Regions from separate parts of the Homo sapiens genome. Here region 1 is linked to region 2. A link means that fine-mapping ties the variant in region 2 to the expression of a gene that starts in the linked region. Tissue or cell type: blood mononuclear cells. Region 2 holds a variant in brackets; the other region holds the start of a gene. All regions are shown on one strand. Distances are between the middles of the regions.

Evidence for each region.
Region 1: LINC01511 starts here. The variant in region 2 is fine-mapped to the expression of LINC01511 in blood mononuclear cells (TOPMed, PIP 0.99).

Annotation. Positions count from the first base shown.
Region 1 is chr5:1,371,759-1,387,508 of GRCh38, forward strand. LINC01511 (long intergenic non-protein coding RNA 1511) reads right to left here and starts at 8,315. Exons shown (of 2, transcript NR_125810.1): 1 at 7,804-8,315. RefSeq lists enhancers at 14,016-14,310, 14,367-14,935.
Region 2 is chr5:1,351,209-1,366,958 of GRCh38, forward strand. LINC01511 (long intergenic non-protein coding RNA 1511) reads right to left here. Exons shown (of 2, transcript NR_125810.1): 2 at 12,374-13,483. Among named protein-coding and RNA genes, the nearest start is that of CLPTM1L, 14 kb to the left of the region's middle. RefSeq lists enhancers at 6,492-7,047, 7,048-7,603, 7,604-8,159. The variant G/A (reference allele first, on the strand shown) is at 8,020.

The sequences.
Region 1 (15,750 bases), 21 kb after region 2:
AGGGCAAGGTCTCCTGGGTATACATTTTATCCCTGAACCTGCCTCCGACATGAAGAGGAAGCTACAGAAAGCAGAAACGGGACCTGAAACCCCTATGAGCCAACTCCTAAACATGCCCTTTAAAGTTTGCAACAATACGAACAGGGCAAGAGGTAGAATTAAAAGCAAGATAAATAGCCAAAATGTACAATTGCTAACAGTTGCTGTCAGTGCCTTGCCCCTCAGCCTTACCCATCCTGAGAGTGTGTTTTAAGATTGGCATCTGACATGCCCAGACAAGAGCTCTTGACTTGCTGGCCCCTGGGTCAGAATCAGTGTGCCTACCATAAGCAAAAGGGCCATTGGCAATGAGAATGTCCTAACCCTCCCTGGTGAGAAAGATAAAAGCTGCCTGTCAATACTAGAGTTAACCTTCTGCTAGTCCCAATGAGGTGTTTTTTGTTTTTTGAGATTGTCTCGCTCCATCACCCAGGCTGGAGTGCAGTGGTGCAATCTTGGCTCGCTGCAACCTCCATCTCCTGGGTTCAAGCGATTCTCCTGCCTCAGCCTTCCAAGTAGCTGGGACTACAGGTGTGCGCCACCACGCCTGGCTAATATTTTGTATTTTTAGTAGAGACAGGGTTTCACCATATTAGCAAGGATGGTCTCTATCTCCTGACCCCAATGAGGTGTTCTGCTCAAGTAAGTGTACTGGGGGCCTCAGACCCTTGGCCTGGTGGATGGCTTCCTGCAGGCTGACAAGTGGCCACTTCAACATTTTTCTTTGGTGTCTCCGCTGCTGGGTGAGCTCTCTGGTGGCTCAGGGACTGCAAGGTTTCACACTGAGCCATATAATTCACCACCACCCCCCTTTCCTACAGAATCTTTCTCCACTTCCCCTTGTCTTTCATACTTATCAGGGCAAATAAAATTTGGTCAGGTAAACAGGTCCCAATTTTATAAATAATTTGGGTCCAGCTGTCTTGTACAGGTCACTTCATTTGCATGATATGTGTTGTGACTAGCATGCTATCACATTGGCTTATAAATAAGAGTGCTCATAAATTAAACAAATAAGTCTAAACATGTTAGTTTGAAGGGAATGTTGTGTCTTCTAAAATTTAATTTTTACCTAGGTAAACCAGATGTTCATAGGTTTTGGAATGGTTAAAATGGCTTTAGGTAGTGAGTTTTGTATGGCTTAAAAATCTTGAAACTGTAGAATGCTTCTCATCTACAGGATGCTAATGTCTGTTGGGCAGTTGAAGATTTCTTGCTTCCTACCTGTATATAAAATGTGCTAGGGAAGATACATTATTGGGAAAAGAATAACTTTTGTCCAGAAAGTATTAAATGAGGGGCTCAAAATATGAGGGAACCAGTACGAGTAGAAAAGAGAGAAGTGGGGAGTTATACATACATACATTTTTTTTTTCAGGAGGGGTATGAAGACTGACTTACAGGTGCCCGCCACCATGCCTGGCCAATTTTTGTATTTTTAGTGGAGACGGGGTTTCACCATGTTGGCCAGGCTGGTCTCAAACTCCTGACCTCAGGTGATCCACCCACCCCGGCCTCCCAAAGTGTTGGGATTACAGGCGTGAGCCACTGCGCCCGGCCAAGAAAGACTGACTTTGTATGAGAAAGGATCTCTGGTCCCAGAATAAAGAGACTGGTTGTGAGGGAGGTGTAGGACAGGTCAGAGAGTCCAGGCATGTCATGGGTGGTCTGTGTGGGTTGTAATGGGGTTTGTGAAGGGGAACTTCTGAGAGTAGTTTTGTGTGCAATTAAGCCTGCTGTGATTAAAGAAATTTTTTTTTTTTTTTTTGGAGACAGAGTCTCACTCTGTCACCCAGGCTGCAGTGCAGTGGCATGATCTAGGCTCACTGCAACCTCTGCCTCCCGGGTTCAAGTGATTCTCCTGCCTCAGCCTCCTGAGTAGCTGGGACTACAGGTGCCCACCACCACGCCTGGCTAATTTTTGTATTTTTAGTGGAGACAGGGTTGCACCATATTGGCCAGGCTGGTCTCGAACTCCTGGCCTTGTGATCTGCCCGCCTTGGCCTCCTAAAAGTGCTAGGATTACAGGCATGAGCCACTGCACCCTGCTGATTAAAGAAAAATGGTTTGTGGTAGACTTTCTAGGGAATGATCTATGTATTGGAACTGGGTTTTCTTAAGGTATTGATTTATTAAGTTATGAGAATTTTTGCTTTTAATGCTATAACCAGCTTCTTCTAAAACTTCTTTGGGCTGAGTGCGGTGGCTCACGCCTGTAATCCCAGCACTTTGGGAGGCCAAGGCAGGTGGATCACTTGAGCCTAGGAGTTCACAACCAGCCTGGGCAACATGGCAAAAACCCATCTCTACAAAAAAAAAACAACAAAAAAAAACACCACACACCACTTTTTAAAAAAAATGTAGTGTGGGTGTGGCGCACATCTGCAGTCCCAGCCACTTGGGAGGCTGAGGTGAGAAGATCACTTGAGACCAGGAAGTCAAGGCTGCAGTGAGCTGTGATCACACCACTGCACTCCAGCCTGGGCGAGAGTGCGAAACCCTGTCCCACAAAACAAACAAAAACTGCTTGGGTTGGTGTCCCAGAGGTTCAGCTGTTGTGTCCCACTGCTGTTAAACTGCAGGAAGTCACTCGCTGGGTACACCTGTCCAGGGTTAAACCTGCGTCTTCTGCGTCCCTGCAGGCATGAGGGGAGGACAGCATGCCCTTCACCTGTGAGCCCCTGGAAGGTGTAAAGCTGTTGTTTTGCAAATACACAAATCACATGGCGAGGAGCACGTGCAGTCATCAGCCATACCGATTCTTCTTGCCTGGTTTTGACCTTTCTCAGGGCCTTTAATGACATCTCATCATTACTAACTTTTGGCTCCCTTATTGGATTTTGGGTTTCTTCCCACCCAACCTTCATTTCCCCCATGATCAGACCAACGGTAAAGCAGCCTCATCTTCCTTTGATGCAGGAAAGATGAGCCCTAAAATTGGGGTTTAGCCAGGAGGGTTCTTGGCTTCACCCAGGAACGAGTTACAGGGCAAGCTGGCGGTGTTAGTTGCTCCCTGTGGAGCCGGGCTGACTCACAGGCAGTGTGCCCAGAGTCCACGGCATATGGGCTGTTGGCAACCATGTGGGCTGTAGGAAAGGCAAAGGACCTTTCCCAGGACCTTTAATAACTATCTTATCATTACTAACTTTTGGTTCCTAGCAAAGCTCGAGTCCTGTAGATTGCAACAATTCCACACAAAGACAACACTGGTACAGGCTTCAACCCATCCTATCCTCTGACCTGGAGAATGAAAGTGTCTGGCCTCTGGGGCCCTTAGATCAGAGATTTTCCCTCCTCTAACCTTACACAGGACCTATGCCCATGAACACAGCAGGAAGCAATCCCAGAAGACAGACCCTGCCCTTCTGCACCCCCTTAAGATTAAGGGGAAGGATCTCATCTCTGAAGAGAGGGGATGAGGTAGGAAGGTGGCAGGACTTGTTTTCTGGTCACTGACCCACTGACCAAAACAGGATCTGGGCTGGATGGGATGAAGTGGAGACAGGAATCAGGGGACGGCGAGGAGGGTGATCCCTGGCTGCCATCATTGCTCATTGGCATAAGACCCTCCCACCAGGGCCATGATGGTTTGCAAATGCCATGGCAATGACCTGGAAGTTACCACCTTTTTTCATTGCAACGACCCAGAAGTTGTCACTTCTTTTCTAGACAATTCTAAATAACCCACCCCTCAATTTGCATTGATCTCTACTTAATCTGCATGTAAAAGAAGTGGGTATAAATACAGTTGCCAACAGCCCATACACTGTGGACTCTGGGCACACTGCCTGTGAGTCAACCCCGCTCCACAAGGAGCAGCTAACACCTCCAGCTTGCCCTCAAACTCTTTCCTGGGTGAAGTCAAGAACCCTCCCGGCAAAACCCCAATTTTAGGGTTCATCTTTCCTGCATTAAAGGACAAAGGGGCAGAAAGGGTGAGGCTGCCTTACCGTTGGTCTGATCATGGGGGAAATGAAGGTTGGGTGGGAAGGAACGTAAAATCTAATAAAGCAGTTATCTGTACAGCAGCTAGACCTCTCCGAAGGAATCCTGCTTTGTGGTTTTGGCTTCCGAGGGTGTAAGTCTTCCACGTCTGCAGAATGCCGTCCTCGCCATCGAAAGGAAGAAGGTGAACTCTAAAGTGGAGACGTGAGCTGGATGGTGATGTTGGTCTCCTGTGGCTGCCATAACAAGGTGCTGCACACCACATGGCTCAGGACAACAGGCACCTGCCGTCTCAGAGGCCACAGTGTGACAGTGACGTGCAGGCAGAGTGGGCTCCTTCCACCCCCTTCTCCCACACAGTGGCTGCTGGTGGCCCTGGGTGTGCCCTGGCTGTTGGCTGCATCCCTCCAGTCTGCTCCCTCTCAGCGTGGGGCTCTTCCTCTGTGCTGGTCTGTCTGATGTCTTCTCATAAGACATCAGCTACAGGATTTAGGGCCCGCCCTAATCCAGAATGACTTCACTTTAACTCATTGCATCTGCAAAGAGCCTGTTTCCAAACAAGTTCACATTCTGAAGTTGTGGGCGGACATGTGTTTGGAGGGCACCGTTTGCCACAGGACAACTACGTATCACAGTGCTGGTGATGCAACCACACAAGTGAAATTATTTCAAGTAACTGTCTCAAAACAAAACAAAAAAAGTGTCTCGCTCTGTTGCCCAGGCTGGAGTGCAGTGACGTGGTCTCGGCTCACTGCAACCTCCACCTCCCGGGTTCCAGCAATTCTGTTTCAGCCTCCTGAGTAGCTGGGATACCATGCTGGAATAATTTCTGCATTTTTAGTAGAGATGGGGTTTCACCACGTTGGTCAGGCTGGTCTTCAACTCCTGACCTCAGGTGACCCGCCCGCCTTGGCCTCCCGAAGTGCTGGGATTACAAGCGTGAGTCACCGCGCCCAGCCTTCAGGTGACTTGTGAGCACAGCACTCACACTGTTTATACTTAGAAGGATATTCTCTGAGGATAAAAGATCATCTTGTTTTCATTTTTAATTTCTAAATAGTCACTTTGAAATGATTTCAGTCATGAAAAAAGTTACCAAAAAACAAAAACAGTGCAAAGAATTCCAGCATATCCTGTAAGTAGTTTCCCTAGAAGTTATCTCACATAGAACCATGGTGCAATGTTCAAAATTAGGAAATTAACACCAACGCAATACTGTTTTTAAAAAATTATTTGAAATGCAATACTATTAACTATCTACAGGCCCCATCCCAGTGTCTTTCTGGCCCACAGCCCAGTCCAGGACCACACATTGCATTTGGTTGTCATTCTCCCTGGCTGCCTCCCAGTGGGGACAGCTTGGAGTGTGGGGCCATTGCCCAGCACACAGCTGCTTCTCATGACTGCATTTAGGACATATCCTCTGGGCAGGACCCACAGAAGCTATGCCAGGCTGACTTCAGGGCATCTCATCAGGAGACCTATGATCTGGGCCTGTTACTGGCGTGTTAAGCTCGGTTGCTGGGAGCAGGGGTATCTGCCAGGGCTCTCTGCCACAAAGTTACATTTTCCCTTTAATTATCTTGTCGGGAGATAGTTTGAGGCCAAGAAATATCCCATTTCTCATCCTAATTTTGCCTACTAATCGCAACATCCCTCGATGATTCCTGTGTTGTTTGCCAAATGGCCATTCTCTGTTACCATCGTTCCTTCTACATTAACTGCAATTCGGAGGAGACGAGCATTTCACCCTCTTCCCCCTTATTTATCTATGCATTTATGTATGGACTTGTGGGCATTTAGCCTTATGAGTTATGAACTATTACTATAATTTTCTTTTTTGAGACAGGGTCTCGCTCTGTCACCCAGACTGGAGTGCAGCAGCATGATCTCAGCTCACTGCAACCTCTGCCTCCTGGGTTCAGATGATCCTCCCACCTCAGCCTGCTGAGTAGCTGGGACCACAGGCATGCACCACCATGCCTAGCTGATTTTTTATCTCCTGTAGAGGCAAGGTTTCACACCATGTGTCCAGGCTGGTCTAGAACTCCGGGACTCAAGCCATCTACCTGCCTCAGCCTCCCAAAGTGCTGGGATCACAGGCACGTGCCACTGCACCTGGCCCATTGGTATACTTATGTATTGTTTTGCTCCGATTATCCCAGGTTTGGCTCTGGAGCCGTGTAGATTGGTCCTGCATCCTTTTGGCCCCCCCCGCTGCCCTCTGAGCGCTCTGCCTTACTGACCACCCCCCCCCCGCTGCCCTTTGGGCGCTCTACCTTACTTTGTGGGACCACTCCATGTTCACCCGGGAACCCTCCCTGCCTCAGTGCTATCTGGGGGCCCCAGTGCCTGACCTGGAGAAAGATGTTAGTGCCCGAGATCCGGCTCTGGGGGTGCCCATGGCTGTAGGGTGTCCCTGCTCCGAGGTCCCCCAGTGGACACAGCTAAAGCCTCGGTGAGAACACACGGGCCCATGCCAGGCTCACACCCGTCTACCCAGCCGTCTACCGACACTTCCGTGCTGAAACTACAAGCTCCTACTGCCGCCTCCCCTCCCAGCCTCCCATGCTCCTTACTGGTAGCTCCCTTCTCCAGCAGCGAGGCTCGTCACCCACAGCGCGGCCGCTGGAAGGTGACCTGAGCGGCCAGACAGGGCCTCCTGCTCAGAGTTTAAAGCTCTGCTGTCGCCATCCTTAAGTTCTTAATGAGTTTTGAGCAAGGGCCCTGCAATCTCATTTCGCACCAGGTCCCGCAAATTATGTATCCGGCTCTAATTACCCACAATATGCTTGCTTGCTCAAGTCTGGAGCACACACAAAGTAATCTCATAATTGCTAACCCAGGTTGCTGTGCAAAACAGCTTCACAAACTAGGGCACAGTGTCTGCACGCCATTCTTTTTGTCTTACAGCCCATGATACTGTCTTCCAAAGCATGCGGTAGGTTTTCTTTTCCCCACTCCCTTCGATGAGGTTCACCTGTTACTGCTTATATTCCATTTCGGCTTCAAGCCCCCATCCCGGTTGATTTTAATCACTTATTTACTTTGGGGGGTGTGTGGTATATTTCTGTGGTCCTGGAAGGAACACAAAAGCTGCAGCCTCCATAATAAGGTAAGCCCACCAGCGCCTGTACCTTTGAGGACCATGAAGGGAAGGGTCTGTCTCCCTGTTCCCTCCACTAACTCCCCCCATCTCTCTGGCCCCCACTTCTCCGCAAAGTGGAAACTCCCTGGGGAGGCAGAAGACCAGGGTGGCAGGACTGCAGGCAGAGAGGGATTCCTGCCGCCCCATGGCTGGGTACCGCTGGTAGGCCACGCACACACTGGGTAAGTGTGCACTAGGCACTGACGTTAAGGGCCAGGCGTTGGTCCCTCCGTCTCACCTGCGCCAACTCAGCACAGGGAGAGAGCTGAGGCTCTGACAAGGATACAGGGCAGAGAGCAGGAAACAGCAGGGCTCAGGCTAGGGGTGGGAGCCCAGCTGCTCAGGAGTTGAAGTGCAGGCCCCCTGTGGGCACCTGGCGGACAGGAAAGGAAGGAGACTAAGGAGTGTGTTGTACTTTATCTGTACCTGGCTACGTGAGATCAGACTGTCACCCAGCATTAACTAAACCTTACAGTGGAGACAGTGGGTTGTATCACTCCCGAGAAGAAACCACAGAACGCTGTAGGAGTAATGCCTGCACCGGCTTCCCCCGCACCACACGGAGCGGCTGCCTACAGCTTTGTTAGGGGCTGAATGCAACCCCGATGCAGGCACCAGCCCTCCAGAGCAGCCTCCATGGAGGAATGCGGTTCCCCACTCTGCCCACATACCTCTCCTGCAGCAGCGCTGAACACCGTCTCCGGACGTCTGGAGCTATCACCATGGGCAACACTTTCGTGGTCTTTATTTTTAGCTTCTCCTTTAGAAACTCACTTTTTGGGGTGGTTTTGTGTCCAGAAGTTGGTGGGTTCTTAGTCTCGTCTTCAAGAATGAAGCCGCAGACCCTCGCGGTACATGTTACGGTTACCTAAAAACGGTGTGTCTGGAGTTTGTTCCTTCTGGTGCGTTCGTGGTCTACACTGATTTCAGGAGTGAAACTGCAAACCTCCGCGGTGAGTGTCACAGCTCCTAAAAATGCAGCACGTCCAGAGTTCTTTGCCCCTCCCAGTGGATTTACAGTCTCGCTGGCTTCGGGAGTGAAGCTGTAGACCTTTACCGTGAGCGTTGCAGCTCACAAACGCAGCACAGACACAAACACTGAGCAGCAGTAAGATTTACTACGAAAACCAAACAAGGAAAGCTCCCAGAGGACAAAAGCAGACCCTAACAGGTTGCCACCGCTGGCTCCCGCAGCCTGCTTTTATTCCCTTATCTGACCCCACCCACATCCTGCTGACTGGTCCATTTTACGGAGAACTGATTGGTCCATTTTACAGAGAGCTGATTGGTCCATTTTACAGAGAGCTGATTGGTCCATTTGGACAGGGTGCTCATTGGTGCATTTACAAACCTTTAGCTGGCTACAGAGTGCTGATTGGTGTGTTTACAATCCTTTAGGTAGACAGAAAAGTTCTCCAAGTCACCACCGGAGCCAGAAGCCCAGCCGGCCTCACCTCTCAGTAGCACTCCCTTTAGAACTTTGCAGCATCTACCCTGGGCACTCCGGCAGCCCAGAGGGAGCTCATCCCCAGATCAAGCCCAGCAGGCGTCGGCGGGCCAGCCAAGCCTGCACCCACCCGGAACCCGCGCCGCCCGCGAGCGCTGCGCTCAGCCCCCGCTCCCGCCCGCGCCTCTCCGCCAGCAGAGGGAGCTGGCTCCAGCCTCGGCCAGCCCCAGAGAGGGGCCCCACAGCGCAGCGGCAGGCCGAAGGGCTCCTCAAGCACGGCCAGAGCCGACACGGAGGCCCAGGAAGCGCCGAGAGCCAGCGAGGGCTGCTGGCACGTTGTCACCTTTCAGTTTCACAATATCCCAAGATGCATTAGTAGTTTCTGTAGCCTGAGTGTTAGTGGCCCCCAAAATTGATAGGTTGGAACCTAATACCCAATGTGATGGTGTTAACAGGTGGGACCTTTGGGAGGTGAGTAGATCACGAGGGCTGTGCTCTCACGAATGGCATGAGTGGCCCGGGTAGAAGAGGCTCCAGGGAGCTCCCTCGCTCTGTCCACCCTGAGCCTTGTCAAGAGGCGCCGTCTTGGAAGCAGAGGGCTGCCTCATGGGACGCCACATCCGCCAGCACCCTGGTCTTGGACTTGCAGCCTCCAGGACTGTGAGCAATAAATGTCTGTTGTTGACAAGTGGCTCAGGCTTAGGCGTGTTGTCACAGCAGCCCGAATGGACTCCAGCAGCAGAGCAGCCAGGGCTGCACGTGGTGCGTGAACACACCCGCCGCCCTCCTCCTCCTGGGGCATATGACGGCTGCGCAGCTCTGTGTATCCAGTTTCTGGGCTGTTCCATGCCCCTATTCCCCTGATTGCTATGTTCTCCAGCTGAAAGAGCACACTGATTTTGCCTTCAGCCCACTCTCATTTTCCCCCAGATTTCACTAAGTGATTTTGCTAAGTGATGGCTGTGCTTCCCCTGTGCGCTTCTCTCTGGCTGGTTTCTACTCCGGATCCACTAGTGGGGCCAGAAAGAGCAGTAGGAAGGAACCTGAGGTTCCTGTCCACCATCAGGCATGTGCACACCTACACCCACACACCCCTGCACTGTGCACACCCACACACACTTGCACACCCACCTGTGCACACGTACATCCATACACACATGCTCACCCCTACATGGACACCCACACACGTGCACGTGCCCATACACATGCACACCCATGCACACACCTGTCTGTGCACACCCCACACCCATGCATGCCGGCACACACCCATGCACATCCACACACAGGCACATACCCACACACACGTGCACACCTCACACCCATGCATACCTGCACACGCTTGCACACTCACCTGTGCACACACATCATACCTGCATGCACACCCCCACACGCACACCCACACACCTGTGCACACACCCATACACATGCATGCCCACACCCACATGTGCACACACCGTACATACCTGCACACACCCACGTATGCACATGGTCAACACTCACCCACTCAGGCACTCTTACATGCACACACGCACACAGACATGGCCACTTTCATGGACACACACCCACACACGCCCACATATACACGCATGCCCACCTAAACCACTCACTTGACCAAATAGCTTTTCAGGAGAGCGCCTGGTCCTGAAGCTTTCTAGGCATTTCGGTAGCCAAACCCTCTTGATCGTGTGGTTCCAGAAAAAGCCAGTGCGGCACCCACTTACCCGTACTGCAGCCACCGTGGTCCCGGGAAGAGGGCTTGCTTCCGCAGAGCTAATGAGGGAAGCGGTCTCTGAGAGTAGAAGGGAGGCCTCGGAGGGAGGTGGTCTCCAAGAGTAGCCGGGAGGCCTGGGAGGATGGTGGTCTCCGAGAGTAGCAGGGAGGCCTGGGAGGGTGGTGGTCTCCGACAGTAGCAGGGAGGCCTGGGAGGGTGGTGGTCTCCGACAGTAGCAGGGAGGCCTGGGAGGGTGGTGGTCTCCGACAGTAGCAGGGAGGCCTCAGAGGGAGGTGGCAGAGCAGGCTCTGCTCTCAGGAAGTGCCCCGTGGGTGGCGACGGGCCGAGAGGTGCTCTGGGGGACGAGTTATGGCTCTGAGCTGCCCGTGCAAGGCAGGGAGGCTGCGTTTTCATGCGTTCACACCTCAGTCCCTGGGTAAGGACCTCCCAGGATGTACCTCCAGCACCCCGGTCATGCAGAGGCCTGGGAAAGCCTGTTGAGGCTGGAGGGGTGGGGGCACATTGGTGTGTTGGGGGACCTGTGTCGTGGGCACGGCTCCCCGTTTAGGGAAGGCACTGCGGTGATCACGCACTACCAGTAAGTATTTCAGAGCCCAAAACGCGAAAACAAATGGAAGAAGTTCCATGTCATAGTGAGTCTTGGCTGGGCGCAGTGGCTCACCTGTAATCCCAGCACTTTGGGAGGCTGAGGCGGGCAGATCACTTGAGGTCAGGAGTTTGAGACCAGCCGGGCCAACATGGTGAAACCCTCTCTCTATTAAAAATACAAAGCTACTCGGGAGGCTGAGGCAGAAGAATTGCTTGAACCTGGGAGGTGGAGGTTGCGGTGAGCCAAGATGGCGCCACTGCACTCCAGCTTGGGCAACAGAGTGAGACTCCATCTCAAAAACAAAAAAGAAAAACAAATAAAAATACAAAAATTAGCTGGGTGTGGTGGCGGGCGCCTGTAATCCCAGCTACTCGGGAGGCTGAGGCAGGAGAATCGCTTGATCCCAGGAGGTTGTAGTGAGCCAAGATGGCGACATTGCACTGTAGCCTGGGCGATGGGGTGAGACTCTGTCTCAAAACAAACAAATAAACACACACAGAAAACAGTGAATGTTTTTATTACAAATAATAAATGTTTGCTTTTACATACCACACCTCATTTCCCCAGGGGTTCCTGAGCACCCCCCCCCAACCCCCTGCTCACCCTCCTTCATTCTCTCCACAGTGTTTGAGGCATATTTTGTGCCAGGCCCCTCCCAGGGCTGCTAACAAGAAAATACAAAATAAAAATGGCAGAGAAGCGAGTGCCTCCCGCGTATGGCAATGCCAGCCATGAGCCAAACGGCTGAACAGAGTCCACATCTCCCTCCGGGTTTCCGGGGTCCCCTGCTCAGGCCTCACCAGTGCAGCGCGGACGTCAGACCGCTACCGTCTCACTCAAGGCTCCCGTGGGCCAGGGTCCACCTGGGTTCTGCTCCTTGGGATATTGGCAGGATCCCGGGCCCTGCTGCTGTGGACTCGGGACTTCACTTCCTTGCTGGTCAGAGGCTGCGTGAGCTTCCAGAGGCCACCTGCTGTTCGTGTCACCTGGGGCTCCCCGGCCCAGCCATGTGCTTCCTCAAAGCCACAGGGGAGGGCCAGGTTCCAAAGAAATGGGCATTGCAATCCTGTGTAACACAATCACATTCCTCCACTCCACTTTGCTGTGTTCTGTGGGTTAGAATATGGTTATCGCCGGGACACCAAACAAGGGTGTCACCAACAGGAGGTGGGGGGCCTTGGGAGTATGGCTACCACACAGGAGGAAACGACAGCTCCACTCCATCACTGAACCTGAGCTCAGCAGTGGCTTTGAGTGTCCTGGCAGCCACGCAGGAAAGGGACTCTGCTCAGAACACACATGCAGAAGCAGGACACACTCCTGCTCTCAAGCCCAGCGCTGAGCCCATCAGCGCTGAGCCCATCAGCGCTGAGCCCATCAGGGGCAGGTGTCCTGGGCCTCCGGTCTCAAGGGCATCATTTCTGTGCAGGCAACAGTCACTGGGCTGTCCTTTCACGCCCTTTGGACACACAGACAACACAAGTGGTTCCCAGAAGCCCTCTGTGTCCTGTCAGGTGGTGACAGGTGGGGGTGGCTGTCCTGTGTCCTCTCAAGTGGTGACAGGTGGGGGTGGCTGTCCCCTCTGTCCTCCGTGGTGGTGACAGGTGGGGGTGACTGTCCTGTATCCTGTCAGGTGGTGGCAGCTGCAGGTGGCTGTCCTCTGCATCATGACCCCACCTGTGTCATGGCAGGGCCAGGCTCATCTCCAGAAACCTCAGGTCAGTGATCCCTACGGATGCCTTTTTACATCATGTCAGAATCTGGAAAGTCTGTTTTATTTCATTATCTGAAATACTTTTAAGAGTGGTAACGGTAGCATTAGACTGATAGTTACATGGATCTGGGACATCTGTGGCACTGGTGCATAAACATCTGAGCCATTTCCATCATTTAACTTGTCCAATCCTTTCAACAGCCTTCTGTGCTGGGCGCGATGACTGCTCTCTGCACAGATGAGTAAACTGAGGCACAGGTGCCTGGACCCTTGCCAAAAAGTGAGGGAGCCAGAGATTCTAACCCAGGGCCCAGCCCTGAGTCTCACCCCTGCCCTCTCCCATCTGCCTGTCCCTCCACAACCCCGATGCCCGACCCTGGGTGGAGAAAGTACAGGGAGGGTCTGCAGCTGCCCAGCTGCAGTGTCCAGTGTCCTGGCGACAGGACCCGGAGCAAACCAGGCCTCGGCATGGGCACGGGATGAACTCAGGGCACCGGTGGGGTGTTGGCCGTTTCTGGGTAACAGACCTACAGGTGATGTCTTTTCCTCTTCTTTCTAAGCTTTAAAAATTACCATTGTGATTAATAGAACTTTTTAGAATTTTAGATACAGTTTCTCTGTGTGAACAAGGCTTAAAGGATATGAGAATGTTTCTGTAGCTTACAGGTCATAATACTATCTTTGAATACACAAATTGAAAAGCCACTTAAATATTAACCTTTGATTCTGAACCAGGATGAGCTTAACGATGGGGACCTGCAGGGCGTGGCCGGCTGGAGCCCATGGCCAGCAGCCATGGCTGAGGGCATACTTCAAAACGGTCATTTCTGTCCCACTAATACTGTGTAAATATGTATGCCATCCAATTTTTAACCAAATAAAATGTTCTGTCTGACGGGTCCCTTCATCTATATGACAAACAGTTTTAAGTAAAGAGGATCTCAGCTTGCAGAATAAGTAAAATTGTTTAAATTCTAGATAAATGTGTTCAGTGCTTGATGGGCTAATGCTGGCTGGATTTGTGAAGGTCAGTCATATACATGAAAATTCTTCTGCATTCACCTTAGAAGAGCGATATTTTTAGGCGAACAGAGCTTGCGATATTTTCTTTCCGTGCCACCTGCCCGCTTGGTGTCTGGCCCTGCGTCCTCAGAGGACCATGGTGGGCTGGTGTTCTTGGAGAGGAGGCCTCTCCAGGGCCACCAAGAGGGGGCTGTGGCCCAGGCTGAGCTCTTCTAGTGGCATGAGGGACACGCTTTATTCATGTGAGCGTTGTGAGGTGGGAAGGGAGGCCAGCCAGGGGAAGGGTAGAAGAATGCCTGTTGCTTGGGTCGGAGGCTCGATGGACTTTCACTGCTGGACATAGTGTGAACATGGGAGACGCAGGTTCAGCGATCACGTTTCACTTTCCCATTCCCCGGACCTCAAACTCAGGCCTGTGTAACTAAAGGTTCTGTGCTGCCAGGCTGGGCGTTTCCCCCAGGGAAGGCACGAGAGAGCGAATGCAGGGCCGGCCGCGGGGCCTGGGGACTGTGCCGCTCAGCACCACCCACAGGGCGTTCCTTGGGGCGTGGCCTGGGCCGGGGCGGTAGGATCCCTTGGACAGGGCCGTGTCTGGCTCACAGGAAGCTGCCCTCATGGAACGGGGTGCAGTGGGGTGTTCGTGGTCCTGCTGCCGTTGGCTGGGCGCAGCCATCCCTGCCGGCTCCCCCGCGCCTGTGCCCCGGGCCCTACTGCACCTGCACGGGCGGGGCTCTGGGGCCGGCGCGGGGAGTGAGGCCGCCGGTCTCCTCTGCTGTGGTCGGTGTGGGGGCCGGCGGGGCGCAGAGCTGCTCACCCGGCTGACTCCCCCTTCTGCCCTGCTGGCCTCTGAGCCGGTTCTCTGGGGCCTCTGTGAGCGCCTTGTGCCCCCCACACCCGCCGTGAGTACCGTGTCTCTCTGCTCAGCCAGGTGGGCGCCTCTGCTGCTGCTGTTGCCACCGAGTGACTGACTGACGCAGCGACGCAGCCACCGACACCCAAACACTGGAGCGTTTTACCCAAATGTAAAAGTCTAAACTTCCGGCTTCTCGAACAAAAGAAAACAAAGGAAAACGTCAGACGCCCCGTTGACGCCGGGCGCGCGTGGCCGCGGCCGAGCCGCTCTTCAAAGCCGGCAGCGTCTGGTCTGGCCTGGCTCCGCCAGCTGCCCGCAGGTCCTGTCCTCGTGGCTTTCTGCCCTGTCCTCCCTGGCCGGCTGCACTGGCTTCTGTGACGCTCGCTCCTTGCTGCGCAAGTGCAGGTGCAGCACCTTAAAGGCTGAGTGCGTCCCACACAGCGGGGCTGGAGCTCGGCACCTTCAGTCCACCCCAAACACCGCCCTCCCGCTGTGCACGGCCACTGCTGCCCCTCCTGCACCCCGACACATGGGGAGCTGGTCTGAGCCTGCCCCACCTGCTCTCCTGTGATCTCCCCTCTGCCACCCCCATCTCGCGCTCCATACCCCTTCCTCAGACCTCCTTGCCTGGGGCTGCTCTCCCCAACTCAGCAGAGCAGGGCTGGCCAGTACTAAGGACAGGGGCGACCACTGGTCCCCAGAAATCCTGAATCCAGGAAACCCCTCAGTCCGGGGCAGACCGGGATGGCCGACCACCCTGACTAGGGGAGGGCCGTCAGAAGTCTTTGACCCTGATCTAAGTTCTCTCTGCTTTGCTGAGTCTCTTTCTGTCTCTCTCCTCCTCTCCCTGTCTGAATGTCTGCCTGCCTCTCTCCCACACACATCTGAGACACAGGTCTCACAGAACCGCCCTTGCCCTTCTGTCTGTCTGTCTGCCTGCCTCTCTCTCACACACACACCTGAGACACAGGTCTCACAGAACCGCCCTTGGCCCTCTCTGCCAGGAGGGTGGTTCTCGGAGGTTCCCATCCTCTGTGGGGATGCTGACAGCTGTGGGTCATGGCTGGTGCCGCGGTTCTCACTCTTGGCTGCAGAGAGCAGCTGGGGGCTGCAGGTCAGGCCACACCTAGCTCCCCATGGCCCTGGTTCACTTAAGTGACAGGCTGGGGTGAGGGGAGGAGGAGGCCAGGGTGTGACCGTCGGTTCCATTTCTGCTTTCCCCCAGCTCCCCAAGTCAGGCACCGGCACAGTGGCAGTTGG
Region 2 (15,750 bases):
TTTTCTGTCATTGTGGATGCATCTGTTCTAGAAATTTACATGGATGGAATCACTCAGTCTTTTGTATCTGGCTTCTTTTACTTGGCACAGTGTTTGTGAAACTCATCATTGTTCCACATAACAGTAGTTCCTTTTAATTGCCAAGTGGCATTCCTTGGTGTGAATGCACCACAGCTGGGCTAGCCACCCAGATGCTGATGGGCAGTCGATAGGCGGTAGGATGTCCCCATTTTCAGTCACTATGAATTGGTCTGCTGTAAGCACTAGAGTAGAAATTTTTTTTTAGAGACAGGGTCTCGCACCGTCATCCAGGCTGGAGGGCAGTGGCTCATAGCTCACTGCAGCCTCAAACTCCTGAGCTCGGGCAATCCTCCCACCTCAGCCTCCCAAGTAACTGAAACTACAGGCACACACCACTACACTTGGCTAATTTTTAAACTTTTTGTAGAGACGGGGTCTTGCTGTGTTGCCCAGGCTGGTCTTGAACTCCTGGGCACAAGCAATCCTCCCACCTCTCAAGTAGCTGTAATAGGTGTAAGCCACTGCCCAGCACCATTTATTGAAGAATCTGTCCTTTCCACAGTGAGTGTGCTTAGCACCTTTGTTGGAAATCAGTCGGCTGTAGAAAGCGGATTAATTTCTGGGCCCTCTGTTCTGTTCCATTGGTCTGTGTGTCTGTTTTTATGCCAGTTCCATGCTGTTTTGGTTACTGTAGCTTTGTAGTGTATTTTGAGTCTGGGAGTGTGATGCCTCCAGCTTTGTTCTTTTTGTTCAGGATGGCTTTGGCTGTTTGGGGTCTTTTGTGGTTCCATACAAATTTTAATATTATTTCTTTTTCTAAAAAGAATGCCATTGGTATTTTGATAGGCATTGCCTTAAATGTGTAGATTACCTTGGGTAGCACAGTCGTTTTAACAATATTAGTTCTTCCAATCCTTGAGCATGAGATGTCTTCTCATTTGTTCATATCCTCTTCAGTTTCTTGCGTCAGTTTTTTGTAGTTTTCCTTGTAGAGGTCTTTCACCTCTTTTGTTAAATTTATCCCTAGGTATTTTATATTATTTGTTGCTATTGGAAATAGGATTGCCTTCTTGATCTCTTTTTCAGCTAGGTTTTTGTTTGTGTATAGAAATGCTACTGATTTTTGTATATTGCCAGGGGCAGCCTGTGGGACTTTTTCTTAGGCCCTTATTGGAGGCACAGAGCCATTGGGCAGGCCAGGGGCGTACCTGCAGGTGGGGGTGCCGTGGGGCTGATTTTCAGGCCCTGAGCTCCTGCTGTCAGTTGCTTGGAGGCTGGTGGGGCCTATGTGGGGAGACCTGCAGCTGTTTGGCTCAAGGGTGGGTTTGCTGCAGGTGGGAGGAGCAGACAGCTGGAAGAGCTGCGGTGGGGATGGGTTTCCCTGCTGTGCAGGACCAGAGTCACAGCTAAGCCTGGGCCCAAGCTCTATGCAGCTGGGGTTGTGGTGTTCAGCTGCCCATGTGGGCTTGGTGGCATGAAAGTGGAGCCCCAGTGCTGGAGAGGTGCAGGTGCTACTGGCCCCAGGGCAGAGCCCCTCCAGATGCAATAGCAGCTTGGCTCATGGCATGGGTGTGGGGTGGGAGGTGCACACCTTTTGCTCCTAATCGGGGGAACACTGCTGTGAGAATTCCCTGCAGTGCTCCCAACTGGGCTCAGGGCTTGCAAGGACTGTGGGTTCTCCTGCAGCAAGGACTGCCAGCATTTGCTGTAGCAGTGGCAGCTGGTGGAGATCTGCTTACCTTTTCCTTGCCACTGGAAGTCCCTCTTTGCTTCTAGGTCAAACTGGTGGGTGAGGAAGACTGGGCAGCAGACGCCACCTGGGCTTCCGAGCACCACAGGGGTGTCTCCGGCCTCTGCTGCAGTCCAGCACTCTGCCTTCGACGCTCCAGTCAAATTGTCACTGTCAACTTGTTGCCTTGATCCTTCTTTGTGGGGAGGAGGGGATGAGCGCCAGACAGTTCTAGTCAGCCCTGTTGCCAACACCACTCTCCTTCTGGTGACTTTCAAAGAGAAAAGTTGAACATTTTTACTACACCCAACGTAATCATGTTTCAGTGATAAGAGTTTTTGAATTTTGCTGTATGTGTTTTGAATTTCTGTTAGTAGGAGCATACTCATTTGGGGTCATTGTGTCCTCTTGATGTCTTGACCCTGTTGTCTTTGTTTATCCCTGGTGATGTTCTTTGTTCTGACATCTGCTTTGTGTCGTGTCAACATAACTACTTCAGCTTTCTTTTGACAGCGCTTCCCTGGCATGCCCTTTTCTCTCCTTTAACTTTTAACCTACCTGTGTTTTAAATATACATATGTATCTATCTGTCTATCTACACATTTTTTTTTGAGATGGAGTTTTGCTCTTGTCACCCAGGCTGGAGTGCAATGGCACTATCTAACTCTCACTGCAACCTGTGCCTCTTAGGTTCAAGTGATTCTCCTGCCTCAGCCTCCCGAGTAGCTGGGATTATAGGCACCTGCCACCATGCCCAGCTAATTTTGTAGTTTTAGTAAAGTCAGGTTTTCACCATGTTGGCCAGGGTGGTCTCGAACTCCTGACCTCAGGTGATCCACCTGCCTTGGCCTCCCAAAGTGCTGGGATTATAGGTGTGAGCCACCACGCCCAGCCTATTTTCTTTTTTTTAAGTAAAATTTTGAGACAGGGTTTTGCTCTATCACCCAGGCTGGACTGGAGTGCAGTGGTGCCATCTTGGCTCACTGCAGCGTCACCCTCCCAGGCTCAAGCAATCCTCCCACCTCAGCCTCCCAAGTAGCTGGGACCACAGGGGTTCACCACCACACCCAGGCAATATTTGTATTTCTTATAGAGATGGAGTTCCACCCTGTTTCCCAGGCTGGTCTTGAACTCCTGGACTCAAGCAATCCTCCCACCTCAGCCTCCCAAAGTGCTGAGATTACAGGCATGAGCCACCATGCTTGGCCTTAACCTATCTGTGTATTTATATTTAAAACGGGTTTCTTGTAGGCGGCTTAGAGTTAGTTCTGTATTTCAATCAACAATCTCTGCCATTTAATTAGAGTGTTACATCATTTAAATTTAATTATCAATGTTTTCTTATTTGTCCTATTCATTCTTTGTTCTTTTTCCTCTTTTTTCTTCCTGCTTTTAGAATTATAAATTTATCTTTTTTGGATTCAAATATGTCTTCTTATTGGCTTTTCAGCTAGATCTTTTTGCTTTACTTGTTCAGTGTTTTTTTCTACAATTGTCAATTTGCAGCTTAAACTTAAGCTAGTCTACTTCCAGATATTATAACCCTTCATGTGGATTTTAATGACTTTAAACAGTAACGTTCCATTTCTGTTCTATTCCTTTCTTTATTGTCATACATTTCACTGTCACGTGAAATACAGCTGATATATACCCTTTAGCCTCAATAACTTCCTTTAGCATTTTGTGTTATGCAGATCTACTGAAAATGGATTCTACCAATTGTCATTTGTATGGAAATATCCTTAATTTGCCCTCGTTTTTTGAAAGATATTTTCACTAATTCTCTAGGTTGATGGGCACTTTTTCTTCTGTCATGTTAAATCACATCGTTCAGTCCACTGTCTTCTGACTTGCATTGCTTCTGATGACAGATTGGCAGCTGTTCTTCTGTGTTTCTTTGTGTTTTGTGTGTATTTGTCTGGCGCTTTTGCCTTGTCTGTCCTGCTTGGGGCTTACTGAGCTTATCAATCTGTGAGATTCAAGTCTGAAAATGTTGCAGTGAAGGTTTCTTCAAATATTTCTCTGCCTGCCTCTTCCTTTTGGGACTCCAGTTATATGTATATGAGCTGCTTGATGCTGTTTCAATGTCAGTGAGGTTCTGTTTATGTTGAAACTTTTCTCCCGTCTCCGTGCTTAGGTTTGAATACTTTCTAATGCTTGTATTCAAGTTCACTGGTATTTTTCTGCAGTTTTCAAACTGCTGCTAAGCTCATATTATGAATTTTTCATTTCAAAGGTATTTTTCATCTCAGAGGTTCCATTTAGTTATATATATACATAATATATTTTGCCAGGATATATCCTTTGGTTAAAAAAAAAGTCTGTAGGTATTAAAAGCAGGGTTACGTTGAATGACCTTGAACATCCATTTTCTGATATTTTGTGACTTTAAGGTAGCTGCTTAGAAGTGGAATTGAAGGATGCAGTTGTGAATGCACACAGGTCTTTCCGGGCATCTCTGAGCTTCTTCCCGCAGGGGCTGTGCTGTTTGCATCCCAGCAGCAAAGCATGAGGTTGTGTGTTTCCCTGCAGCCTCCCCATCAAGGTGTGCTGGTGACCTTGTGGAGTTTTGCCAACCTGTTAGGAGAGATGTTGTAACTCAGTGTTTTCATTTCTAATTCTCGGATCATGAAAACTAACAGGCTTGGCTTGGTGTGGTGGCTCATACCTGTAATCCCAGCACTTTAGGAGGCCAAGGCGGGTGTAACACCTGAGGTCAGGAGTTCAAGACCAGCCTGGCCAGCATGGTGAAACCCCGTCTCTACTAAAAATACAAAAAATTAGCCGGGCGTGATGGTAGGCGCCTGTAATCCCAGCTACTCAGGAGACTGAGGCAGGAGAATTGCCTGAACCTGGAATGTGGAAGTTGCAGTGAGCCGAGATCGTGCCACTGCACTCCAGCCTGGGCAAGAGAGAGAGAGACTCCATCTCAAAAAAAAAAAGAAAAAAGAAAACAACGGGCTTATTTACAGCAGGAGCTGTGGTGCCCTTGGGGGATGTGTGAGCTCCAGGGATGACAGCAACCACCATCTGTTCATCTCAGCACTTGGGAGACAAGCCCTGTAGGATTCATTCAGTAAAAATAAAATCCTACGAAGTGAATTTGTAGGCTTGGGGAAGTGTGGACAATGCAGTTTGGGCATCACCTACGTACAAGCAGAATTCGCAGGAACAGCTCCTGGGCATTGGGATGAAACATGGCCCCTGCCATCTGCTTCTTGGTGTCAGGCCGGCCTCCTGCTTCCCGCCTTTGTTGCCAGCGTGGAGGAAGCAGAGGTCAGGGAGGCAGTCACTGCTTGTCCCTGACACGGGACTCAGTCTCCAGACAAGGCGGCTGCTCTCAGTGTCCTGTCTCATGACTCCAGGAAGGCCCCTCCCTGTAGAGTGTCAGCAAGTGCCCACGACCCACCCACAGAGCAGCTGAGCAGTGCCTAGCGCGCAGGGCAGGCCACACGGCGCCACCATCAGAGCACGAGAACAGAAGGGCTGGGGGCCGTGGGAGCCTGGGCGGGCCAGGGTAACGAAGAGCCCGCCGTCGGTCTCTGCATCCGTCGGCTCACGTGGCCACGGAGCAGCACCGTGTTACAGCAAAGCGGTCCTGATCCAGAACCCAAGAGAGGGTTCTTGGATCTCGCACAAGATAGAATTCAGGGGGAGTCCGCAGTCCCATGTGGAAGTGAGTTTATTAAGAGAGTAAAGTGGCGAAAGGACGGCTGCTCCACAGACAGAGCAGGGCATTCCCGAAACTAAGAGGAGAAAGGCGCCCACCTGGGGTACAATCCTGGTGTATACGGGGAGATGTGCTCTGCTACGAGCGTTGATGATAAAGAATTAATTTTCTTAATTAGTATATTTTGCAAGAATCAATATCATTTATCTTTAAGGCAAAATTAGGAATGCCTTTGTTCTCTGGATATCGGGGTATCTGGACTCCCAAGTCTGGGTCTGTTTAGTAAACATTATTTATTTGTTCCTTTATCTCTAAACGTCTAGAGGCTGGGAATGCCCGACTCTCTGGGAGTGGAGCCTAGCAAGTCCTAGCCTCGTTTTCCAGCCCTCACTCGAGGTGGAGTCGCTCTGGTTCCAGCGCCTCTGACGACCGCAGGCTGGGGCTTAGACAGGACATTTATTGCTCAAAGTACAGTCCATGAGGCTGGCGGTCCCAGATCCAGGTGTGGCAGGGCTACTTCCTCCTGAGGCCTCTCCTTGGCTTCCAGACACCGTCTTCTCCCTGAGTCCTCACCGGGTCGCCCCTCTCTGCGTGTCCGCCTCCTGATCTCCTGTTCTTACAAGGACACCAGTCACAACGGGCCCACCCTCTTGATCTCATTTAACTGAAATCCTTTCTGTAAAGACCCCATCTCCAAATACCGTCACATTCTGAGGTCCTGGGGGTCAGGACTTGAACATTTAAACTTGGAGGCAGGCACAGTCCCACCCATCACAGCCCATTGTCCTCCACAGCCCTCCAATCTCACTTCGAGTCTTCCCCAAGGGTCAGCACAGGCTCTGCCCTTGTGAGCTTCATGGGAATGAGGGTCAAGGGGGTAATGAGGGCCGGAAGTGATCGGAGGGAGGCGGGAAGAGGGAGGACTTGGACTCCGCCCACGGGGTCCCCACCTGGGCATGGCTGTAGGGAGGGGCATCGTGCTGCTCTTGTCCTTACTGGGGGCCAGTGTCTGAAGGAGGAAGGGATGGGTGGCAGGCACTGCGGGGAGGAGAGGGCTCTCCAGCACTCATATTTTCATCCTTTGACCGTGCTGCCTGGGCACTGAGCATAGGAGGATGTCGCTGGCTGGCAGGGCTGTCACCCTCATCGATGGCCCAGTTTCCCAGGAGGAAATGGATGGGATGGCAGGTTTCAGCAGAGAGCACACAAGCCCTGCTATTATCTTACAAAAAGCCAGGCCAGCCTCCCACAGCTCTCCATGTGACTTAGCATCAATATTGGGGGTTTTGTAGTTACCTCAGGAAACCTACTTTTGAACAAATAATAGATTATGTTCTCTGGAACACAGGGGGAGCTAAATGCCTTTTGACAGCCAGCAGCTTATGGAAATAGCCCTTTTCCTGGCAGAAGAAGTCGGTTCCCCACGGCCGCGCCCGCTGCTTCATCCAGCTTCCCCTCGCTCTGTGCCGACGGGTGCCCGGAGTTCAGCCCCTGGCCTGACTGTTGCTGTCACTGCCCCCTTGACCACTGCAATGGTGACAGCTGTGATGTACGATTACAAAGCGGGACACAGAGCCCTCCCAGAGCAAGGCAGCTCCCCTGTGGGCCAAGCGGACCAGGCTACTGGGGGACCCTGGGCTCCTGGGACATGGGGTGCGGGTGCAGACAGGGCCTGAAGTGCTCCTAGGTGCATGCCAGTGGCAGGAAGCCCCATGTCACAGAGATGTGGCCCAAGCGCTTGACAAGAGACGGCGTCAGATGATGTAAAAGAAACCAATGGACCTAAGTGGGTGCCATCCTGAGCCCCGCTGGTGGATTAACTCAGTTCCATGCCCACGACTGCCCGAGGTGGAGCGATGGTCATGCCCACTGCACAGATGAGGAGCCGAGGCCAGGAAGGGTTTTGCCAGATGCCTGGGCTGGGGCCAGGGCTCAGGACCACCCACTGAACTGCCTGCTCGGCCCACCCTGGCAAGTGTGTGCAAGGGCCCGGTGGTGCCGACGAGGAGGGCCATGGGGAGGAGATGTTGTTGTCCTGAGACTCCCAGCCCCACCTGAGGGGGAAGAGGGTGGGAGAGCAAGGCTGGGAGCCACCCTTGGGGGCTGTGCATGTGCCCCCTGACATTGGAGGACACAGGCCACGCCACACCTGTGCCACCCAGGGAGTGGGAAGGAAGCACGTGGCCGTGGAGAGGCCAGCAGGTGGCAGGAAGGGCTGCAAGCCCCCAACCACGGGGTCACACGTAGGGGACCCAGCACCCCATGCAGGAGCTGGGCTGTGCCCTGCATCTGCACAGGCCGGGGCATGAACTGGGCATCAGCACCGCCCTCCCATGGGGACGAGGACCCATGCCCGCGTGGTGCAGGAGCTGTGCACTGAGCAGCCCCATGGGCAACTCCAGCCCGCAGTGCCAGGAGCAGGGCCAGGCCTTGTGGCAGGGGTGCAGGCTGGCTCCTGGCGGTCGCTCAGCTCTCGGGGATAGGTGAGGACGCGTGGAGAGGGGATAGCATGGGCATCAAGGCCGAGGCACTGGCCCCTCCCAGAATGGCCTCCAGGACCACCCTGCCTGCCCCCGGGTGCCCCGCTGTGCCTGGGGAG[G/A]GTAAGGGTCACTTCGGGTTCACGGCTCCAGGGTCGCCGTCTTGAAATTCTTACCAATTTTATCACTAAGCTTATGTTTTTCAAGCAAGATAGGATGGGCATGGAGCCCCTGCAAGAGCAAGCCACGGGCGCCCTCCGAGCCCATCGCCGCTCAGAACCTGAACAGAGCACATAAGCAAGGCTCACGGCGACCACAGGGCTGGTCGCAGCCAGGACGGGGTGAGGAGCTGCAGCCCCAGCCTCGCCTTCCCTTCAAGCCGAGCAGCTTCCAGTGGGAGGAAACGCCAGCGACCGGGCCCCCGTCCTTCCTCCTCAGGCGGTCCTGTGGAAGGTGCGGTGCTGATGGAACGTGGTGACTGGGAGGTGGCATAAAAGCAGCCACTGTGCTGGTTTTGTGGGACCTCTCCTCCTTTCTGGGGGTCCCTGAGGACAGGTGCATGTGCGAACTGTGAAACAGAAACTGAGATTTCACCTTCCGGATGAGTTCCATGCTTTCTTTTTTGCATTTAAAACCGGACAATGTCACATTGGCAAAAATCTAGAGTTTTCTGCCGTCTTAGCTGGAAATGAGCTGCAAGTTTTTCTCAAGATGTAGTGTGTAATCCGTCAGAGCAAAACACGGAGAGCCCTTAGCAGAAGCCCACTTCAATGTATTTTCTTCATATCCCTGAAGTTCCTTAAAAATAGGTGACGATGTATTGGGAAGAGGAGAACTGAGAAGTTCCCTTGCAGGTTTTGTATCAGTGACATGTAAATGAGCAATTCACAGATGAGCGCGGGCACAGCTCTGTGTGCTGCGTACATACGGGCCGGGCTATGATGTCTCACACTGGATGATATTCCACCTTCGGAATTTTAGTGTTTGAATACAGAAAATGGGTTTAATAACTCACTGTGGTTTTGATTTATCTTATATTCATCATTTCTTAAAACTCATTTCTTATAAAATTTAAAGTAAAAAAAATAAAACTAGACAATATATGAATGGCAGATCCATGCTAATGATTCTAATTTTCAGAATTTCTTTACTTAGAATGACATAAAATAGCAACTAAAAAATAAGTTGAGAAACTGTGGAAAAAGAAAAAGCTAGGCCGGGCACGGTGGCTCATGCCTGTAATCCCAGCACTTTGAGAGGCCAAGGCGGGCAGATCACCTGAGGTCAGGAGTTCAAGACCAGCCTGGCCAACATGGCGAAACCCCGTTTCTACTAAAAATACTAAAATTAGCTGGGCTTGGTGGCTCATGCCTGTAGTCCCAGCTACCTGGGAGGCTGAGGCAGGAGAATCGCTTGAACCCAGGAGGGAGAAGTTGCGGTGAGCTGAGATGGTGACATTGCAGTCCAGCCTGGGCGACAGAGCAAGACTCTGATAAAAAAGAAGAAGTTGTATATTTTACTACCTTGCACAGCACTTTCCCCTGCTTTTTAATGAGGCACTCCACATTTTCACTTTGCACAGTGCCCTGAGTGGGCCAGATGGAGGGACCCTTCTTCTGGGGTCTCACCCTCATGTGGCTGCTGGTCCACACGGGCCCTGACAGTGGCTCTCGGGGTGATCACAGCCTGAGGCTCCTCCTTTCTCAGGCCCTGGTCACTCAAAGGATTCCCGGCGGGGTCCCTCCAGTGAACACCCAGCTCCTGCTTCAGAGCATGAGGGGTGTGAGTTTTCCAAAGGTACCAGCTTTGGACAGATGGGGTGAGATGGTGGCCAAGGGGTCCCTGCAGGGGCCCCTCATGGTCCTGGGGACACCCTGACTCTTCTGGCCGGGTGGAGCACAGCCCCAGCTACCTTTGCACTCTCCAAGGTCCCAGGGGCACCCAGGCTACTGAGTGTCCCAGACATCCACACGCAGGGATTGGGGGACCAGAAGCTGGGGAGCCCTAGGGGTTTTGAGGGCAGAGGGCAGGAGGAGGGTGTGGTTAATGGTGTCCAATGCAGGTGCTAAGCCACAGGAGGAGTGGGCTGTGGCGTGGACGATGCAGGTAGCTGTCAGCATCAATGAGATGTGCAGTGGGCTCATTGGGGGGTGGGGTTTTTTAAGAAAAAAGCCTCGGGGTGTGGCTGCTGGTGGGTCGCCCTGTCAGAGAAGAGAAAGCTGGAGAGGACACAGGGCTGGGGTGGAGGGCAGGTCTGCGGGTTCCAGGGGGCACACTGGAGGGGACACTCAGGGGCTGGAGGCTGTCTTGGGTTGGGACTGAGGCTGGTGTGGGGTCTTCTGCAGGCTGGGACTCATGGTGGGGCTGGGTTCAGGGGTGGGAAGTTGGAGGGGGATGCTGGGAATATCTGCTGTGACAGTAGAAAATGTACATTCAGGATTAGCCTAGTGGCTCACGCCTGTAATCCCAGCACTTTGGGAGGCCGAGATGGGTGGATCACTTGAGGCCAGGAGTTTGAGACCAGCCTGGCCAACATGGTGATACCCCGTCTCTACTAAAAAATAATAAAATCAGCTGAGCATGGTGGCACGCGCCTGTAATCCCAACTACTCCGAAAGCTGAAGCAGGAGAATTGCTTGAACCTGGGCGGCAGAAGTTGTAGTGAGCTGAGATCGCACCATTGCACTCCAGCCTGTGCAACAGAGCAACACCCCGTCTCAAAAAATATATATATATTTATTCTATTTTGTCCCCAGTTCCTGACACAGTGCTTCTTGGAATGTCCTGCATGGTAGGAGGTGAGAATTCATAACAAGCCCCTTTCAACCTCTCCTGAGCTTATGCTATGAGGGGACTCTTGGTAGGCCCCTAGATAGCTTGAGGGTGGTGCTGGTTGCTAGGGGAACCAGCCGTGTGATTGAAGGCTGAAACTTTCAGCCCCATTTCTCAATCTCTGGGGCCAGGGGTTGGAGATGGAGGCCAACGAAAAATCACCAGTGATGTCACCAATTGTGTCCACATGACACCTCCATCAGAAACCCTCGCCCATGGGATTTGGAGAGCTTCAGAGTTGGTGAACACGTCCGCGTGTGGGAGGGGGCACACCCCAAGTCCATGGGGACAATGGAATGTCCTGTGCCCGGGACCCCACCAGCCCTCGCCCCAGGCACCTCCACATCTGGATGTTCCTGCGTATTCTTCACAATATCTTCTCCAAGAAAGCAGTAACGGTAAGCAAAGTGTTTCCCTGACTTCCACGAGCCATCCCAGCAAATTACTGAATTTAAGGAGGGGATGGTGGGCCCATTTGCAGCCACGTTGGACAGACATGTGGGTGGCCTGGGGACACGATGCTTGTGACTGGCTGAGTGGGGGCAGCCTCACGGGCAAAGCTTTCAACCTTCCGGATCTGCGCTAGCGCCGGGCAGTGTTGGAGCTGAATTAAATTGCAGGACACTCGGGTGGTGTCTGCAGAGACCCGGAGAATTGGCTGGTGTGCAAAACCCACACGCTTGTTGTCAGCCGTGTCGTGAATCGAGGAACAGCTTTCCTTTATCCACAAAAAAAGCGAGTTTTCATTCCCTATTCTTAAGTGCGTGGCTCCAGCTTTTGCAATAATTCTAGTCCTTATGGTGAGGAGGGTAATGTGAGCGAGGCTGAGAAAGCTCCGGAGGAGTCCACACGGCCATCCTCTTTCTAGTTCAGCAACAAGAGCCAAAATCAGGTTTCCACGGAAAGTGACTGGCGTTGGCTCTCCATAGGGAAATGAAAGTAAAAGAAGCAGTTTGGCCAGGCGCAGTGGCTCACACCTGTAATCCCAGCACTTCGGGAGGCTGAGGAGGGCGAATCACCTGAAGTCAGGAGTTTGAGACCAGCCTGGTCAACACGGGGGAAACCCTGTCTCTACTAAAAATACAAAAATTAGCCAGGCATGGTGGCGGGTGCCTGTAGTCCCAGCTACTCGGAAGGCTGAGGCAGGAGAGTCACTGGAACTGTGGAGGTGGAGGTTGCAAGTGAGCCGAGATCACGCCACTGCACTCCAGCCTGGGCGACAGAGCAAGACTCTGTCTCAAAAGAAAAAAAAAGCAGCAGTTTGGGCCATGCAGTGAGCGCTCTGTGGACCAGTGGACTCATCTGCTGGGGTCCAGGCAGCCTGGGCTGCTCCTGGTTCTTCCCTCCTCCCTGCATGCACGGCCCTGCACTGCCCTCCCTGGGGCTGCTGTGGGAGTTCTCGGGGCTCTCGGTGGTTGTCCCGCTGGCTGGGAAGGGCTGTGGTGTGTTGGGTGCTGCCTACCCTGAAGTACACGAATTAGGGTTGTGCTGTGTTGGGTGCTGCCCTCCCCAGGGGCTGCTGTGGTGTGGTGCTGGGTGCTGGCTGCCCTCAAGTACATGAATTAAAAGTTGCTTCTCCTCTTGCCAGATGCAGGGAGGAGGCTGAGCAAAGCCCTAGCTCATTTACGTAGAGACAGACACACAGAATTTTTGCAGGAATTTAATGCACTCTGATTTTTCCGGAGATCTAACAATAGCGCACATCAAAGTGGGTGGCACTGGGCTCTGTTCAGAACATTCCAGCAACTGGTCACTGCAGCAGCGCACTCACATGGCGGTGGGCGCTCGGGCTGACCTCACCTTCTGGAAGGTGCACCTGTGTGCGCAGGCATCCGAGTCCATGTCACGTGCTGGCACGGCAATCGCCATCCTTTCACAACAGGTCACGAAGCCGACTGATTTTGAATGGCTGTGTGGGTAATACTGCCCATGACCTTCATTCCAGAGAGCAACAGGCATCAGGAAACGTCTGTCACAACAGGCAGGGCTGGAGCTTGACACGGTTGAGAATCCCTGATGCTCAACCCGTATTTTCTGGCTACCAGTTGAAAGAAAGGGTGAGAGGATGCTTGGCTCCGAGCAAGTGGCTGAGAAACGCAGCCATAACATTCAGCTCCTTCTCACCAAATTCTTTACCCCAAAGAACCCTGGGAGGAAGACACATTTGCTAGGAGCTGGGTACCTGAAATCAAGGTAAGGAAAGGATGCCAGGTTCTCTCCTCCAAATGGCGCTCTGGGCGTCTCCCCTACAATCAGAGAGGAACGAAACTTACACGAACCTTAAACTTCTGTTAGAGGTAAAATAGAATAATAATAATAAATCCCAGTTCAGTGAATTCAGGTTAACCGCAAAGCTCATCGGTTTGGAGAGACGAGCTCTGACCTTTGTGAAATTTTGTGCACAAACAACCTGGAACACTGCTGTGAGAGAGAGGGCTGTGTCCTGGCCAGTGTCGGCCCCACCTGCAGGAAGTGCTTATCTGTTTCATCGGTGAGGTTTGCTGGCTGGGCTTGGGGAATAATGGGTTCCCACTTTCTCAATTGTCTCCAGGGTTTGGAACACAGGGCTCTGCGCCTCTTTCTTCACTTGCTGTTCCACAGAGAAGGTGACCCGAGCTGCACAGTCCAAACCGAAGGACACTTAGTCCCCAACTGGATGAAACAGGGAAGAAGCGAAAGCATCTTCATCTATCGGTCTCAGTATTTGAAATTTTGCTTTCTAGATAGGCAGACCAACGGAATAGAAGATAAAGTCTACAAATAGAACCAAATATATGTAGAGATTAGGTATACAATGAGGTGGAAAAAGACGGACTTTTGACAATAAGTTTTTGGGACAGTTGGATAGCCACATAGAAAATGATACAACTGGCCAGGCACAGTGGCTCACACCTGTAATCCCAGCACTTTGGGAGGCCGAGGAGGGCAGATCACGAGGTCAAGAATTCGAGACCAGCCTGGTCAATGTGGCGAAACCCATACATCTACTAAAAATACAAAAGTGGCCAGGCGTGGTGGCTCATGCCTGTAATCCCAGCACTTTGGGAGCTGAGGTGGGCAGATCACGAGGCCAGGAGTTTGAGACCATCCTGGCCAACACAGTGAAACCCCATTTCTACTAAAAATACAAAAATTAGCCGGGTGTGGTGGCGGGTGCCTGCAATCCTAGCTACTTGGGAGGCTGAGGCAGGAGAATTGCTTGAACCTGGGAAGCGGAGGTTGCAGTGAGCTGAGATCGTGCCACTGCACTCCAGCCTGAGTGACAGAGCAAGACTATCTCGAAAAAAAATAAAAGAAAACTAAAAGATACAACTTAACCTTTAGCTTATTTTCCACACCAGAATAATCCCCAAAGACCAGAGATCTTCATGCGAGAAGGAAGTAAGGTCTGGCTGAAAACACAGCTGCAGGATGTCACAGGAGAGGAAAAGGCTTTCTAACCATATCTTATAATTTAGAAGAACAAATACAAGATTGCCAAAATTTATCACTTAAAATAATGTATACTCAGGTCTGGCACGGTGGCTCACACCTATAATCCCAGCATTTTGGGAGGCCGGGGCAGGAGGATCACCTGAGGTCAGCAGATTGAGACCAGCCTGGCCAACATTGTGAAACCGTATCTCTACTAAAAATACAAAAATTAGCCAGGCCTGGTGGCACACGCCTGTAACCCCAGCTACTAGCGAGGCTGAGGCAGGAGAATTGCATGAATCCGGGAGGTGGAGGTTGCAGTAAGCCGAGATCGCATCACTGCACTCCAGGAGCATCTCAAATATGTGTGTGTGTGTGTGCGCGCGTGTGTGTGTGTGTGTGTGTGTATACTCAATCAAAATCCTAGCAAGTTATTTTGTGGCTATTGAGAAATGATTCTGAAGTTTACATAGAGAGAGGAAAGACCCAGCACAACCAACACAAAATTGAAGAACAAAGTCACGGGACTCATGCTGCCCGGCTCCTAGGCTCCTGATGAAGCTGCACTAATCAAAGCAGGGTGGTGAATGAAAGATGGAGGAGGGGGCAGGTAGGGGGTGGATAAGGGGGCGGGTAGGGGGCGGATAAGGGGGCAGGTGGGGCGGATAAGCGGGGGGTGGGTAGGGGGCGGGTAAGGGGGCAGAGTGCAGAACCCAGAAACAGACCCATGTGGATGCAGTCAGAGGAGCAAAGCCAATTCCATGGGACAAAGAGTCTTTTCAACAAATGGTGCTGGGACAACAGGACACCCATGTGCAGGAAAGCAAATCCAGACACAGACTTCCCACCCTTCACAAAAACGAACTCAAAATGGATCAGACCTCAATGTAAAACACAAAACTATAACGCTCCTAGAAGATAACATAGAATAAAACCCAGATGGCCTTGGGCATGAGATGACGTTTTAGATTCAACATTCAACATGCCTGTTGGATCTAAAAGGCATGATCCATGAGAGAAATAATGGATAAGTTGGACTTCATTAATGTGAGAAACTTCTGCTCTGCAAGAGACTCTGTCAAGAGAAGACAAGCCACAGACTGGGAGAAAATACTTGCAAAAGACTTATCTGATAGAGGACAGTACTGAAAATATGCAAAAAACTCTTAAAACTCAACAATAACAAATGGACAATAGATTTTAAAAGTGAGCAAAATACTGGAACGTAAATCTCACCGAAGAAGTTCTGCACATGGCAATACGTGTGTGAGAATGTTCAGCGTCACGCATCATCGGAGAAATGCAAATTACACCAACACTGAGACACCACACACACCTACTAGCATGGCCAAAACCCAGGGACTGGCAACATCAAATGCTGACAAGGATGCGGAACAGCAGGAACTCTTGTTCATCGCTGGTGGGAATGCAAAATGGGGCCGCCGCTGTGGAAGACAGTTTGGCAGTTTCTCACAAAACTAGACATGATCTCACCGTACGGTCCAGTAATCATATTCCTCGGTATACACCCAAAGGGACTGAAAACTTCTGTCCGCACAAAACCTGTACATGGGTGTTTATAGCAGTTTTATTCATAAGTTTCAAAA